Linked DNA regions of Homo sapiens: regions 2 and 3 are each linked to region 1. Evidence: fine-mapped expression QTL. A gene starts in region 1. Each other region holds a variant in brackets. All regions are shown on one strand. Distances are from middle to middle.

Region 1 (5,232 bases):
AAATCCCACAAACAGTGTTGGGTAAAAAGAGCAAATTGCAGAAGACTACACACAACATGATGTCATTTTTATAAGATATACACACACACACACACTATACATATATGTATATCATACATATGTTGTAGAACTATTTAAAACACACAACACGGTCATACAATTACCTTGGGCAGGGAGTTGGAAAATAAAGGCAATAGAACACATGCACCTTCAATGCTACTGATAATTTTCCATGATTGGCTAGATCTGGGAACAGTGTGGGAATTAGACAGATTGCAAGAATTGGAGCAGTGACAGGAGAAAAAATGCAGTTTGACCAGTTAGGTCTAAACTCCAAATCACGGGTGTTCATGTTATTATTTACTTTACATACACGTTGTACGTACTCTTAATTATCAAATATTATGTGATAAGATAATTTAAAGAATATTTAAGGACCAGGAAGTGTTTATGACATAATGTTAAAGGAAAAAAAGCAGAACATAGAACTTTGGATGCAGTATATGCATCTGTTTCATTTTAAAACAGGGACATCCTTCATTTGTGGGTATTTGTGTGCAGAGAAAAAAGATTGGATAACATCAAAATATGATGAGTGAACGTCTCTGGATATTGGGATAGCATGTGATTTTTTTCTTTATACTTAATGTTCCAAATATTTCACAAGGGCATAAATATACATGAATTTTACAATCATAAAAATTGTGCTGGGTGTGGTGGCTCATTCCTGTAATACTAGCACTTTGGGAGGCTTAAATGGGAGGGTTGCTTGAGTCCAGGAGTTCAAGAGCAGCCTGGACAAAATAGTGAAACCCTATCTCTACAAAAATAATAATAATTTTAAAAAATAATAAATATATAAAATAAAAAGTCTCTTTTAAAAAAATTTTAAAGTTAGGTAGAGATTAAGCTACTTTTTACTAAAAATTATGTCAATGTTCATGTTTAAATTTCAACTCTATTTTTAACATTCTAAATCTTAAACTAGGTGGTGAATCCAGAAATGTTCATTATGTTATTTTTTATATCTTTATAATATGTGAAGTATTTCATGATACTGTTTTAAAGTTGCTATTAAAAAGTAACTAGGCAGGGTGTGGTGGCTCACGCCTGTAATCCCAGCACTTTGGGAGGTCGAGGTGGGCAGATCACCTGAGGTCGGGAGTTCGAGACCAGCCTGACCAACATGGAGAAACCCCATCTCTACTAAAAATACAAAATTAGCCAGGCATGGTGGTGCATGCCTGTAATCCCAGCTACTTGGGAGGCTGAGGCCAGAGAATTGCTTGAAACTGGGAGGCGGAGGTTGCGGTGAGCCGAGATCGCCCCATTGCACTCCAGCCTGGGCACCGAGAGAGAAAAAAAAAGAAAAGAAAAGAAAAGTAACTACATGGCTGAATTTTTTTTTTTAAGCAAATCTTAAATGAAATGCAAACACCAGGACTGTGAACCTGTAGCTTTGGTCACAGGTAGCAATATGGCCTTACTGGTTGTATAGCACTTACTGAATTTTTCTTGAGAATTCTAAAATTTGAGAGTGATGCCAGATAAAATTGCATCAAGAAATCTGAAAGGAACGATTTATTCTGGCTTCAGGAAATCTGATTTTATATTTCTGTGACATAAGACAGGTTTTCTTTTTTCCAGAATGATCCTCTACTCTGAATAACCATAAAATTTCACTTGTGGAATACATCAAAATTATTTATACATCAAAATTCTCTTAAATATTTTATAGTAATCTTTCTAAAAATCCTTCAGTCTTACTGTACTTGTCTAGAGTTGCAAAAATGTAGTGTTAACATTAATATTAAAAGCACTTTCAATGAAATTTCTAAACAGGAGCCAACCCTCTGAGCTGGTATTTCAAAGCAGTATCTATAAACAGAGCAATTTGTTCCAATTTCAGATGAAATCAAGCTGGGAACCTAGAGAGCTCCCCCGCCCCAGGATCTAGGGAATTGTAGTCAGGTTCTAAGCTTCGGAAAAAACGAGCAGCAGAGTATGGTCTGATAAGCTTCGTGCATTTTATTTTGCTTTTCCTCCTTTATTTGATTTGTTGTCATACAGGAAAGGATTTATGGGTGAGAGATCAAGTGCGGACCAGACATGACTCTAGCCTGGAGCCCGACCTCACCTCTGCTCTGCAGGAACTGCTGGCCTCAGCACGAAAACCCACAACCCTCGAAAGGCCTTAAGGATCCTGGGCGGGGTCATTCTGTCAATTGGTTGTTCCGCTGTCCTAGCGAAGCGATGATTGGTCAGATCTGGATATGGGGTGTGGCTAAGGCTGTTTGCCGGAATAAGAGCAGAGCTAGGGCCAAGAAACGCTAGTCTGGGCGTTTAGGTCAGAACTACCCCGGTAGCCTGACAGCAGGAGCTCGAGAGAAGCATGGCTCAGCGGTGCGTTTGCGTGCTGGCCCTGGTGGCTATGCTGCTCCTAGTTTTCCCTACCGTCTCCAGATCGATGGGCCCGAGGAGCGGGGAGCATCAAAGGGCGTCGCGAATCCCTTCTCAGTTCAGCAAAGAGGAACGCGTCGCGATGAAAGAGGCGCTGAAAGGTGAACCCGGGTCCCCTTCACCCACCTATGCTCATATGTGGGTCCCTCCCTCCCCAGGTCAACCCGTGACTCCCCGCTTCCGCCGCAAAGCATCTGCTACTGCAGCTGGAGCCCCGACACGCACCCCAGCCCGGCCCCAACACCCTTCCCAGCACATCGTGCCCCTGTCTGGGGACGCCACACTTCCCCCATACCTGGCTCCTGGAACTCTGGTGTGCCCTGCCTAACCTGGAAGCTCCAACTTCACCCCTCTTGGCGTGACCACCGTCCATTCTTTCCCCTGCTTGCCTCGAGTATTACACCAGCTTTCATTTGTACATCAATTTTAACCTTTGAAAGTTTGCATGCCTGATAAATTACTGCGGTGTCGTAAAATAAGACAAATGATATTAGTCTTATCTACAAAGGAGAGAAATTGAGGCTTAGGTCAGCTAAATGATCTTCCCCAGGGCCCCACAGCAAAGAGTGGGCAGTGGGTGACAGCATCTAGTGCCTGTCGGACTCGCTGGGATCAGATGGCTCTAAAGAAAGGGAGTGGAGTGTTCCCGGGGTGTGGGATGTTCCTAATTCTCAATCATAATTGAAGAACATGTCTCCTCTAGATCTCTAATCCAGACCAAAAATTCATCCCTGTTCTGAATCTGCATTTTCCAGGAAACAGGAAAGTTTCTGTTGAGTGCTAGATCCTATGGGATGAAATCCTTCTTTACCATTCAGCTTAGCTCCAGTCTTTTCCCTTTCATTAAGTAATGGATTAAGAGAGACTGCCTGCATAAACATATAGAAGCAGATGCAGGGACCAAAAGCTAACCCCAATAGTTGGATATAGATTGTTCATATGCTAGAGTGACAAGCCTGGGAGGCAGAGCAGGGCTTTCCCAAAGCATAAATAATTCTCTAAAAGGCATTAGACAGCCACTCACAGTCTGCACAGAAGAGAACAAAAGCTACATAAGCTAGAATAGGGACCTCATAGCAACACAGCTTGGAACTCTGAGCAGGGGACAGAACACCTGAGATCAGATCCTTGGGTCTGCCCTTGAGTAGGCACTTGAATCTTTCTGAACCTCGGCTTCCCCATCTATCTGGTGGGCTATGCTATTGTAGGGTTGATCCTTAGCAAAACTGATGAAGTTTGTCTTTCAGAGACCCTTCCTGCCTCAGGTGAATTTGTTTGCACTGTGTTCTTGGAGAGCAGTCTAATTCAATATTCTCATGATTCATGCTTTCCCTCCCAGTGGTTTTGTCTTTGATCATGGAACTCTTTAAAACTGTAAAGTCTTAAAGACTCAAAGGGATGAGCCCAGTGAAGGTTCAGGAACTGAGACAACTGAGTAAGGAGGGTGAGATTATTTTAGGACTGAGGAGTTTGTTTGGAGGCTTCTAAATCCACCCCTTCCCAGGCATTATATGCCCAAAAAGCTGGTCTTGGTTGACAGACTAGTGAGACTCTGCATAAGGAATAAGCCTTTACATACAAAAACACACAAGCCTCATTGATGTAGGGACCCAGGACAGTGGGTGCCTTGAGAATGATGAAGCTTGGATTCATCAAAGCAATTGGTGATTTCAGAGGTAGTGAGGCCTTAGGAAGCAATTTATAGTAGCTTCCCTTCAAGACCAGGATCCAAAAATCCACTTCCCTCCAATCTTAGACTGTATTTGCCTTTAAGAACCATATCAGCCTAAACAAACCCAGAAGACATAGGTTTAAATCTATAGTCTGCCTGTTGCTCAGACAGCTCACCTAACCTCTCCAAGCATTTTCCCTCATCTTCGAATTAGAGGAAACAATAGCGCCTACCTCACATTAGTGTTTTGCCCTCTGCAATATGATAATGAAGGCAAAAGAACTTTTTGTGCACAGAGGACTGTAGAAAAAAACAATGACTAATTCATTTTCAATCTTTCATCTCTATTTGACTCTGACAGGTGCCATCCAGATTCCAACAGTGACTTTTAGCTCTGAGAAGTCCAATACTACAGCCCTGGCTGAGTTCGGAAAATACATTCATAAAGGTCAGCTGCAAATCAGGGGCAAGGGGTGGGTGGTAGAAATAGCAATGGAGACACAGTTCTTTTACAAAGTGATAAAGAAGTTTATTTTGCGACTGATCAGAGGACAATCTAATTCCCATAGGCAGAGTAGAGACTGTAGATTTGCTCTTGGAAAAACTAAGCCACCATATGTAGGGCAAAGATTGAGAGTTCATCCAGCCATTGCATTAGAGTACAAACTCTCTCAAATTTTGCCCTACATGTGTGTCATTCAATAAATGTTAAATCATCAAAAAGTAGAACTAGGATTTCCTTCTACTTGTGCAACTGCCCAGAACTATGTTCCATGCTCCTCCCACCCCTACCTCCTTACACACCCAAACACACCGGTACATATACACTCCACGTACTCAGGCCTACCCCAGATTCATTACTAACACATTTCTAGGCCTCTAGGCAGTCAACAACTTTGAGCTATAACATCAGTCTTTTTCCCTCATCCCTACCACCCATTGAGTACAGAGCTGAGGAAGGATGGGTCAGAGGAAAAAAGGATTCTTGGAACTCCTCCCTCCCCTTATGAAAATCTCATGGAGAGTGATGAGATTACCTTCCTAAATCTAATTAAAAACAACCCCTCCAAAGTTGTCAGAGGTGGGAGAAGGTGGCCTAG
Region 2 (5,232 bases), 44 kb before region 1:
GGATTACTTGAGTCTGGGAGATCAAGACTGCAGCAAGCCATGAATACACTACAGCACACCAGCCTGGATGAAAGAGCAAGATCCTATCAAAAAAGAAAAAAAAAACCCTCTAGGGAGGCCTATATCCAGAAGTGAGAAGTGCAAAGACCAGCTCGGTCGGGGAGACCCTAACCCAGTGGTGCTAAAGGAATTAAAGACAGACACACAGAAATACAGAGGTGTGAAGTGGGAAATCCGGGGTCTCACAGCCTTCAGAGCTGAGAGCCTCCAACAGAGATTTACCCACGTTATTTATTAACAGCAAGCCAGTCATTAGCATTCTTTCTATACATATTAGATTAATTAAAAGTATCCCTTATGGGAAACGAAGGGATGGGCTGAAATAAAGGGATGGGTTGGGCTAGTTATCTGCAGCAGTAGCACAGCCTTAAGGCACAGATCACTCATGCTATTGTTTGTGGTTTAAGAATGCCTTTAAGTGGTTTTCCACCCTGGGTGGGCCAGGTGTTCCTTGCTCTCATTCTGGTAAACCCACAACCTTCCAGCGTGGGCATTAAGACCATCATGAACATGTCAGTGCTGCAGAGATTTTGTTTATGGCCAGTTTTGGGACCAGTTTATGGCCAGATTTTGGGGGGGGGGGTGCTGTTCCCAATATGTCCCCCTTATTTGATTTGCAAATCGATAAAAGCAAAGGCAGCTTTGACACTGTGAGCTACTTCTCACAGGAGTCAGGATCCACATCTGCACACTATACAAAGACAAACAATACCGATTAAAAGCACAATCATCATTGAAATCACAGAGCTTCCAAGTGTTTTTATCCATTTTAATGGGTTACTAGCTGCTAATCTGTCTGCAGCTCCTTCAAGCACTCCAGTTTCTGTCATTAAGGTCAGGTGTACCTGGGATGCTTTAAATATTTGTTCTTTTAATTTTGTAATATCCAAAGACAAGTTTGTAGAGTGTCTTTCTAGATGCTTTTTTTATTCTTTCCCAAATTTTGATCTTATTAAGAGCTATTAATAGTTTCCACAAATCCTTATGTTTAGCTCCTACAATGAGCCATATCATTTGAGGTTGAGGTGACACTATACTGCCATGGTTCCAGACAATAGGAACTTTTGCCATACTTCTTATCATTTCTGCCATCTGACCACTTTGTTCAGACCATCTGAACTAGTGTGGCCATGGCATGCAGACTGAGAGGTGCAATTTAAGCTAAACATCCCCTTAGGGGACCAATCAATGATCCCATAGGAATCATTGCGTAGCATCTCTGCCTGTTCTGCAATGCAATCTTACTAAACAAGTTGTTCATTATTTCTGGCCAGGTTCTATTTTGTTTACAAATAGGTTTTTGAGGGTGGTATGCCTCAATTATAGGAGCAGATTTATTATGGTAAATACTGAGATCAGAAAGCATGTGTAACTGTGCCATAGAGTGAAATCATCTAGGCATTATTGCCAGACAAGATTGATAAATATGCCCAATAAGTATAATTGTTCTCTGTGTCAGCCCTTGTTGAAGGAATACTCATGGCAATGGTGATCATCACTGTGATAGATCACCAAATTACTCATTGTGATTGGTTGTCCCGCTTTCCTCAGGTTTTCTTCCATCATCTGTGACAGCTTCTTGATTTGTCCCCAGGTGGATGGCTGTGTTCGACGGGTGTTGCTCATGACAGTTGGGGTCCTCCTCAGTGTCAGCCTCGACGTGGCTGCAACCAGGGGGTCCTCAGGATCCTCCTGGAATCTCTTCCTCAGCATCTGGCTCATGATAAGGTTTCAGGTGTCTTGATGGTATCCAAATTGGTTATTGATTTTGGCCTGGAGAAACACAAACATAACCTCTACCCCAAGTTATTATTTTACCTATTTCCCAACTTTTTGTTATCGGATCTCTCCACCAAACCAGTTGTTCTGCTTCTGTCTTTGCAGCCGGTTTCTGTAAATGCTGTTCAGCTGCTGATAACATCTGGCCTTTAGGCAGACTCAAAAAATTTAAAGTTAATAATGCTAGATTCAATTGTATATGGGCTGTCCCATAATCCCTCTTTCTCCCCCTTTGTTGTTTTTGTCTTCAGTTGTTCATCTGTATGAAATCGTAACTGAGCATTTTCAATTAACTGTGTGGAAAGAACCATATATGAAGAATCAGAAATCACATTAACAGGCATATCAAAAGCAGTCAATACCTCAATTACAGCTACAAGCTCCACTTTTTGAGCTGAAGTATAGGGCATCTGGAAAACTTTACTTTTTGAGCCAGAATAAGAAGTTTTACCATTACTAGACCCATCTGTAAAACAATGAAAATGCTTAGCAGGCTGCAGGTTGTTTACTGCAAGAATTGTAAATGCAAACCATTCACAGTCTTGCTCAGCCAAAGGGATAGTAAAGAAACAGTCTTTCAAATCTATGACTATTAAAGGCCAATTTTTTGGAATTATAGCAGGAGAAGGCAATCCTGGCTGTAATGCTCCCATAGGTTGTATAACTGAATTGATGGCTCTTAAGTCAGTTAACATTTTCTATTTACCTGAATTTTTCTTAATTATGAAAACTGGAGAATCCCAAGCAGAAAATGTTGGGGCTATGTGCCCATTTTCTAATTGAACTAATTTCTCTAAAGCCTCCAGTTTCTCTTTACTTAGCAGCCATTGTTCTATCCAAATTGGCTTATCTGTTAACCATTTTAAAGGTATAGGTTCTGGAGGCTTAACAATGGCTGCCATCAAAAATGATATCCTAAGCCTTGGCAGGAATTTTGTCTTTCCACTTGCAGTGGTTCTTTCAAAACTCGCAAATTTTTTCCTAGTCCAATACCAGGAACATACCCCATTATATGCATCATATGTTGACTTTGAGGGCTATATAATTGTTCTGGAATTAGAACTTGTACTCCCCATTGTTGTAATAAATCCCTTCCTCAGAAATTTATGGGTACAGAAGTTATAATTGGTTGAATAGTCCCAGGTTGTCCATCAGGCCCTTCACAATGCAAAATATAGCTACTTTGATATACTTCAGGGACTTTACCAACTCCAACTATTGGAGTTGAATTGAGTGGGTTGAATTGGCCATGCAGACGGCCAGTGCTGTAGAGAAAATGTCCACTCCTGTATCTACCAAACCTTTAAATTTATTTCCCTGAATAGTTATTTCACAGGTAGGATGTGTATCAGTAATTTGATTTACCCAATAAGCTGCTTTGCCTTGTTTATTTGTGCTTC[C/T]AAATCCTCCTGTTCATTTAATTTCACTTTTTCCCATTCCCACATATGACACAATCAGGAGCTGTGCTATGCACTCTCCTGGCTCTGCTTTCCAGGGAACAGAAGTAGATATAACAATTTGAATTTCCCCATTGTAATCTGAATCAATGACTCTTGTATGTATTTGTACCCCTTTTAAATTTAAACTAGAACTGCCTAGAACTAATCCTATTGTCCCTGCTGGCAAGGGACCACAGACTCCTGTTGGGACCTTTTGCAGGGGTTCCCCAGGCAGAAGACTCAGCATAAATCTACTGCAGCATAAATCTAGTGTGGCTCTACCAGCTGTGGTGGGGGACAGGCATTGTACAGGGGTGAGGGAATGACCCGAGCTGGAAATGCCCCAGTTTGGAATGGGGCCCAGGATGGGCCCCTCATGGCTTTTCCTGAAATCAGGTTCCCATCTTTATCAAACTTAGAGTGATTAGCCCAGTGTTTTCCTTTTTTACATTTTGGACATATTTCAGGCTCAGCAGTTTTCTTTTTTCCCCTATCTGGTGGCCCGACTTGCTGATTTTTTTCTACTTTTTTTTTTTTCAGTATGACCATGCTTCCCACAGTTAAAACAAGCTCCAGGAAATGGAGTACTTTCTGTATCCACTCTCAGTCCTGCCATTGCCCGTGCTAGCAGGTGGCCTGATGCAGATTACCTCTGATACCACCACAGGCCTTGATATAATCAACTAAATGTGCTTTCCCTCTGATAGGTCACAGAGCAGCCTGGCAATCAGGATTAGCATTGTTGAAAGCTAATAATTGCAACACTATATCCTGAGCAGCCAAATCTGCAGTCATCTTTTTAAGAGACTCCTGTAACTGAGCTATAAAATCCACATATGATTCTTCTGGTCCCTGTTTTATAGCACTAAAGAAAGGGTATTGTTCTCCACTTGAAGTGATTTTTTTTCCCCAAGCTCTAATGCACGCTCCTCTAAGCTGTTCTATGGCATCATCCTGCATGACCATTTGTGCATCTAAACCAGCCCAACTGCCAACCCCCAAAAGTTGGTCTGCAGTTATATTAATTTGAGGTTGGTCCTGCGTGTTGTGAGAAGCCTGAATGGAAGCTTCATCTGCCCACCAAGTTTTAAATTGTAAGAACTAAGCAGGAGTTAGACAAGCTTGAGTAAGAGCGTCCCAGTCAGTAGGAATCATCTGACTGGAAACAGCAATGTTCTTTAATAGTCCCATTACAAAAGGAGAACCTGGTCCATACTGATTAATAGCTTGTTTAAATTCTTTGAGTAATTTAAAACAAAAAGGCTCAAATGTAGCTACAATATTTCCCTGTTGGTCTGGGCAGTGTAGTCTAACAGGGAACTGCCAAGCCTCTTAATCACCTTCTCATCTAGCTTGCTGAATTCCTGACTGAATAGAACTAAGAGCAGTCGCTCGAGGTGCTGCTTGAACAGTCACTGGGGCAACTAATTTTTGCCCACTGTCCTCTGGAAAAGAAAGATCTGGAGGGTCAGGCCACTCTTTTTCTTCAAAATAATAATGAGGGGGTGCAGAAGGGTAGGGATGAACCTCTCCCTCCTTTGCCACTTTAGCTTTAGCTGGCAAATAAACCTGCTCTATAACCTCTTCTGTTACTTCATTATACTCTCCTTCTTCCTCATCATCAGTGTGAAAAAGTTCCAAGATGGAACGAACCAGACCCCACACTTGTCCCATTGTTACCCTGATGCTTCTGAGCTCCCCTTCTTACTCACCACGGGGTTTGCTTTAAGAGTACTCAGGTGTCCTCCAGCTAGTTCCATGTTCTCCAACCATCACTCTGGTGACCCTTCAACCTGGATTCGAGCCCCCATGATGGAGACCACTTGCTGAGACCAGCTTGGTCGGGGAGACTCTAACCCAGTGGCACTAGAGGAATTAAAGACACAGAAATATAGAGGAGTGAAGTAGGAAATCAAGGGTCTCACAGCCTTCAGAGCTGAGAGCCTCCAACAGA
Region 3 (5,232 bases), 37 kb before region 1:
ACCCAATCTGGCTTACAGTTTCGTTCTGCAACTAGCCCTCCCCCACCTGCCCAACAATTTCCTGTTAAAGAGGTGGCTGGAGCTAAAGGCATAGTCAAGGTTAATGCTCCTTTTTTTCTTTATCCGACCTCTCCCAAATCAGTTTTTAACATCAAATATAAAAACTCAGCCCAGTTCATGGCCCATTTGGCAACAACCCTTAGACGCTTTACTGCCCTAGACCCAGAGGGGCCAGAAGGCTATCTTATTCTCTATGCATTTTATTACCCAATCTGCTGCTGACATTAGAAAAAGCTCCAAAAATTAGATTCTGGCCCTCAAACCCCACAACAGGACTTAATTAACTGCACCTTCAAGGTGTATGATAATAGAGAAGAGTTGCAATTACTTGCCTCTGCTGTGAGAGAAACCCCAGCCATATCTCCAGCACACAAAAACTTCAAAATGCCTAAGCCACAGCAGCCAGGCATCCCTTCAGGACTTCCTCCCCCAGGATCTTGCTTTAAGTGCTGGAAGTCTGGCCACTGGGCCAAGGAATGCCTGCAGCCTGGGATTCCTCCTAAGCTGTGTCCCATCTGTGCGGGACCCCACTGGAAATTGGACTGTCCAACTGGCCCAAGGCTCTGACTGTCTCCTTCCCAGGTCTTCTTGGCTTAGTGGCTGAACACTGACACTGCCAATCACCTCAGAAGCCCCCTGAACTGTCACGGATGCCGAGTTTTGGGTAACTTACAGTGGAGGGTAAGTCTGTCCCCTTCTTAATCAATACAGAGGCTACCAACTCCACACTACCTTCTTTTCAAGGGCCTGTTCCCTTGCCTCCATAACTGTTGTGCGTATTGATGGCCAGGCTTCTAAACATCTTAAAACTCCCCAACTCTGGTGCCAACTTGGACAATATTCTTTAATGTACTCCTTTTTAGTTATCCCCACCTGCCCAGCTCCCTTATTAGGTCAAGACATTTTAACTAAATTGTCTGCTTCCCTGACTATTCCTAGGCTACAGCCACACCTCATTGCTGCCCTTTTCCCCAGTTCAAAACCTCCTTCACATCCTCCCTTGTTATCTCCCCACCTTAATCCACAAGTGTGGGATACCTCTACTCCCTCACTGGCAACTGATCACACACCCATTACTATCCCATTAAACATAATCACCCTTATCATGCCAATATCCCATCCCACAGCACACTTAAAGGATTAAAGCCTGTTATCACTCACCTGTTACAGCATGGCCTTTTAAAGCCTATAAACTCTCCTTACAATTCCCTCATTTTACCTGTCCAAAAACCAGACAAGCCTTACAGGTTAGTTCAGGATCTGTGCCTTATCGACCAAATTGTCTTGCCTATCCACTCCATGGTGCCAAAACCATATACTCTCCTATCCTCAATGCCTCCCTCCACAACTCCTCCATAACCCATTATTCTGTTCTAGATCTCAAATATGCTTTCTTTACTATTCCTTTGCACCTTTCATTCCAGCCTCTCTTCACTTTCACTTGGACTGACCCTGACACCCATCAGCCTCAGCAACTTACCAGGGCTGTACTGCCACAAGGCTTCATGGACAGCCCCCATTACTTCAGTCAAGCCCAAATTTCTTCCTCATCCATTACCTATCTCAGCATAATTCTTCATGAAAACAACGTGCTCCCCCAGCTGATCATGTCCAGCCAATCTCCCAAACCCCAACCCCTTCTACAAAATAACAACTTCTTCCCTTCCTAGGCATGGTTAGGTACTTCCACCTTTGGATACCTAGTTTTACCATCCTGACTAAACCATTATATAAACTCACAAAAGGAAACCTAGCTGACCCCATAGATCCTAAATCCTTTTGCCACTTCCCTTTCCGTTCCTTAAAAACAGCCCTAGAAGCTGCCCCCACACTAGCTCTCTCTAACTCATCCCAACCCTTTTCGTTACACACAGCCAAAGTACAGGACTGTGCGGTCAAAATTCTTACACAAGAGCCAGGACCACACCCTGTAGGCTTTTTGTCCAAACAACCTGACCTTACTGTTTTAGGCTGGCCATCATGTCTCCATGCAGCAGCTGCTGGTGCCCTAATACTTTTAGAGACCCTCAAAATCACAAACTATGCTCAACTCACCCTCTACAGTTCTCATAACTTCCAAAATCTATTTTCTTCCTCATACCTGACACATATACTTTCTGCTCCCTGGCCCCTTCAGCTGTACTCACTCTTTGTTGAGTCCCCGACAGTTACCATTGTTCCTGGCCTGGACTTCAGTCTGGCCTCCCACATTATTCCTGATACCACAACTGTCCCCCATGACTGTATCTCTCTGATCCACCTGACATTCACTCCATTTCCCCGTATTTCCTTCTTTCGTGTTCCTCACCCTGATCACACTTGGTTTATTGATGGCAGTTCCACCAGGCCTAATCTCCACTCACCAGCAAAGGAAGGCTATGCTAGAGTATCTTCCACATCTATCATTGAGGCTACCACTCTGCACCCCTCCACTACCTCTCAGCAAGCTGAACTCATTGCCTTAACTTGAGCCCTCACTCTTGCAAAGGAATTTTGCGTCAATATTTATAGTGACTCTGAATATGCCTTCCATATCCTGCACCACCATGCTGTTATATGGTCTGAAAGAGGTTTCCTCACTATGCAAGGGTCCTCCATCATTAACGCCTCTTTAATAAAAACTCTTCTCAAGGCCACTTTACTTCCAAAGGAAGCTGGAGTCATTCACTGCAAGCACCATCAAAAGGCATCAGATCCCATCATTCAGGGCAATGCTTATGCTGATAAGGTAGCTAAAAAAGCAGCTAGCATTCCAACTTCTATCCCTCACAGCAGCTTTTCTCCTTCTTATCTGGTCACTCCCACCTACTCCCCCACTGAAACTTCCACCTATCAATCTCTTCCCACACAAGGCAAATGGTTCTTGGACCAAGGAAAGTATCTCCTTCCAGCCTCACAGGCCCATTCTATTCTGTCGTCATTTCATAGCTTCTCCCATGTAGGTTACAAGCCACTAGCCTGACTCTTAGAAC[T/C]TCTCATTTCCTTTCCACCATGGAAATCTATCCTTAAGGAAATCACTTCTCAGTGTTCCATCTGCTATTCTACTACTCCTCAGGGATTGTTCAGGCCCCCTCCTTTCCCTACACATCAATCTCAGGGATTTGCCCCCAACCAGGACTGGCAAATTGACTTTACTCATACGCCTTGAGTCAGGAAACTAAAATGCGTCTTGGTCTGGGTAGACACTTTCACTGGATGGGTAGAGGCCTTTCCCACAGGGTCTGAGGAGGCCACCATGGTCATTTCTTCCCTTCTGTCAGACATAATTCCTCGGTTTGGCCTTCCCACCTCTATACAGTCCGATAACAGACCGGCCTTTACTAGTCCAATCACCCAAGCAGTTTCTCAGGCTCTTGGTATTCAGTGGTGCCTGGTTTTACCTCAAACTGCCACCCTTAAGTCTCTGTTTAAGTGGATAGAAGATCTTCATTGACAAAGTACACTCCAATACTTTCACCCTGATGAAGTCCTATTCTTTACTTTTATACTCACTCTTATTCTGGTTCCTATTCTTATGCCACCCTCTACCTCTCCCCAGCTATCTCCACCACACTATCAAACTCACTCTCTCCTAGCCATTTCTAATCCTTCTTTAACAAACAATTGCTGGCTTTGCATTTCTCTTTCCTCCAAAATCACCAAGGCCCTGACTTACTCACTGCTAAAAAAAAGGGGAAGGGGGACTCTGTATATTTTTAAATGAAGAGTGTTGTTTTTATCTAAATCAATCTGGCATGGTATAAAAAAACTCAAGGATAGAGCCAAAAAACTCACCAATCAAGAAAACAGTAACATTGAATCCCCTTGGACACTCTAATTGGACATCCTGGGCACTCCCAATTTCTAGTCATTCAATATCTATTTTTCTCCTTCTTTTCTTCAGACCTTGTGTCTTTCATTTAGTTTCTCAATTCATACAAAACCGCATCCAGGACATTACCAATAATTCTATACAAAAAATCCTCCTTCTAACAACTCCACAATATCACCCCTTACCAGAAAATCTTCCTTCAGCTTAATCTCTCCCACTCTAGGTTCCCACATTGCCCCTAATCCTGCTTGAAGCAGCCCTGAGAAACATCGCCTATTATCTCTCCATGCCACCCCCAAAATTTTTCACCACTCCAACACTTCACTATTTTGTTTTGTTTTTCTTATTAATATAAGAAGACAGGAATGTCAGGCCTCTGAGCACAAGCAAAGCCATTATAGCCCCTGTGACCTGCGTGTATACATCCAGATGGCCTAAAGCAACTGAAGATCCACAAAAGAAGTGAAAACAGCCTTAACTGATGACATTCCATCATTGTGATTTGTTTCTGCCCCACCCTAACTGATCAATGTACTTTGTAATTTCCCCCACCCTTAAGAAGATTCTTTGTAATCTCCCCTACCCTTAAGAAGGTTCTTTGTAATTCTCCTCACCCTTGAGAATGTACTTTGTGAAATCCACCCCCTGCCTGCAAAACATTGCTCCTAACTCCACCGCCTATCCCCAAACCAATAAGAACTAATGATAATCCCACCACCCTTGCTGACTGTCTTTTTGGACTTAGCCTGCTTGCACCCAGGTGAAATAAACAGCCTTGTTGCTCACAAAATATATATATATATGTGTATATATATATATATATGTGTATATATATATACATATACATATATATGTGTATATATATACATATACATATATATGTATATATATACACATATATATATATATACACACACATATATATATACACATATATATATATATGTATACACATACACTGGCTGAATGGATAAAAACACAAGACCCAGTCATATGCTGCTTACCTTTAAAGACACACAGACTGAAAGAGGACAGATAGAAAAAGATACTCCATGCAAAAGGAAACCATATTTGAGCAGGAGTAGCTATACTTATATCAGACAAAACAGACTTCAAGTTAAAAGCTGTAAAGAGCTAAAGAAGGACATTATATAACAGCAAAGGTGTCAATTCAATGAGAGAATATAACTGTTGTAAATATATGGGCACCCAACACTGGAGCACTCACATACAAATAAAGCAAATATTATTAGATCTAAGGGAAGAGACAGGTCCTAATATAATAACAGTTGGGGACTGCAACACCCTACTCTTGTCCCTGGACAGATCATCTAGACAGAAAATCAACAAAGAAACATCAG

Direction of the effects. Positions count from the first base shown, and alleles are read on the strand shown. Sizes are in standard deviations (SD) of each study's normalised expression. Not every link is listed here.
With allele C in place of T in region 2, the expression in amygdala of the gene that starts at base 2,333 in region 1 is lower (moderate effect, 0.63 SD a copy in GTEx).

What was found. PIP is the estimated chance that this variant, and not a neighbour inherited with it, causes the effect. A credible set is the group of variants that fine-mapping cannot tell apart.
Region 2: its variant is the best candidate, but not a certain one, in a credible set for the expression of PM20D1 in amygdala (GTEx, PIP 0.57).
Region 3: its variant is the best candidate, but not a certain one, in a credible set for the expression of PM20D1 in visceral fat (GTEx, PIP 0.84).

Annotation. Positions count from the first base shown.
Region 1 is chr1:205,847,233-205,852,464 of GRCh38, reverse strand. PM20D1 (peptidase M20 domain containing 1) reads left to right here and starts at 2,333. Exons shown (of 13, transcript NM_152491.5): 1 at 2,333-2,561; 2 at 4,494-4,580. The coding sequence starts at 2,393. RefSeq lists an enhancer at 2,110-2,404.
Region 2 is chr1:205,891,068-205,896,299 of GRCh38, reverse strand. It overlaps PM20D1-AS1 (PM20D1 antisense RNA 1), which reads right to left. Exons shown (of 3, transcript NR_046097.1): 2 at 4,991-5,144; 3 at 213-2,132. Among named protein-coding and RNA genes, the nearest start is that of PM20D1-AS1, 32 kb to the right of the region's middle. The variant C/T (reference allele first, on the strand shown) is at 3,240.
Region 3 is chr1:205,884,002-205,889,233 of GRCh38, reverse strand. The region is part of intron 1 of PM20D1-AS1 (PM20D1 antisense RNA 1); the gene reads right to left. Among named protein-coding and RNA genes, the nearest start is that of PM20D1-AS1, 25 kb to the right of the region's middle. The variant T/C (reference allele first, on the strand shown) is at 3,033.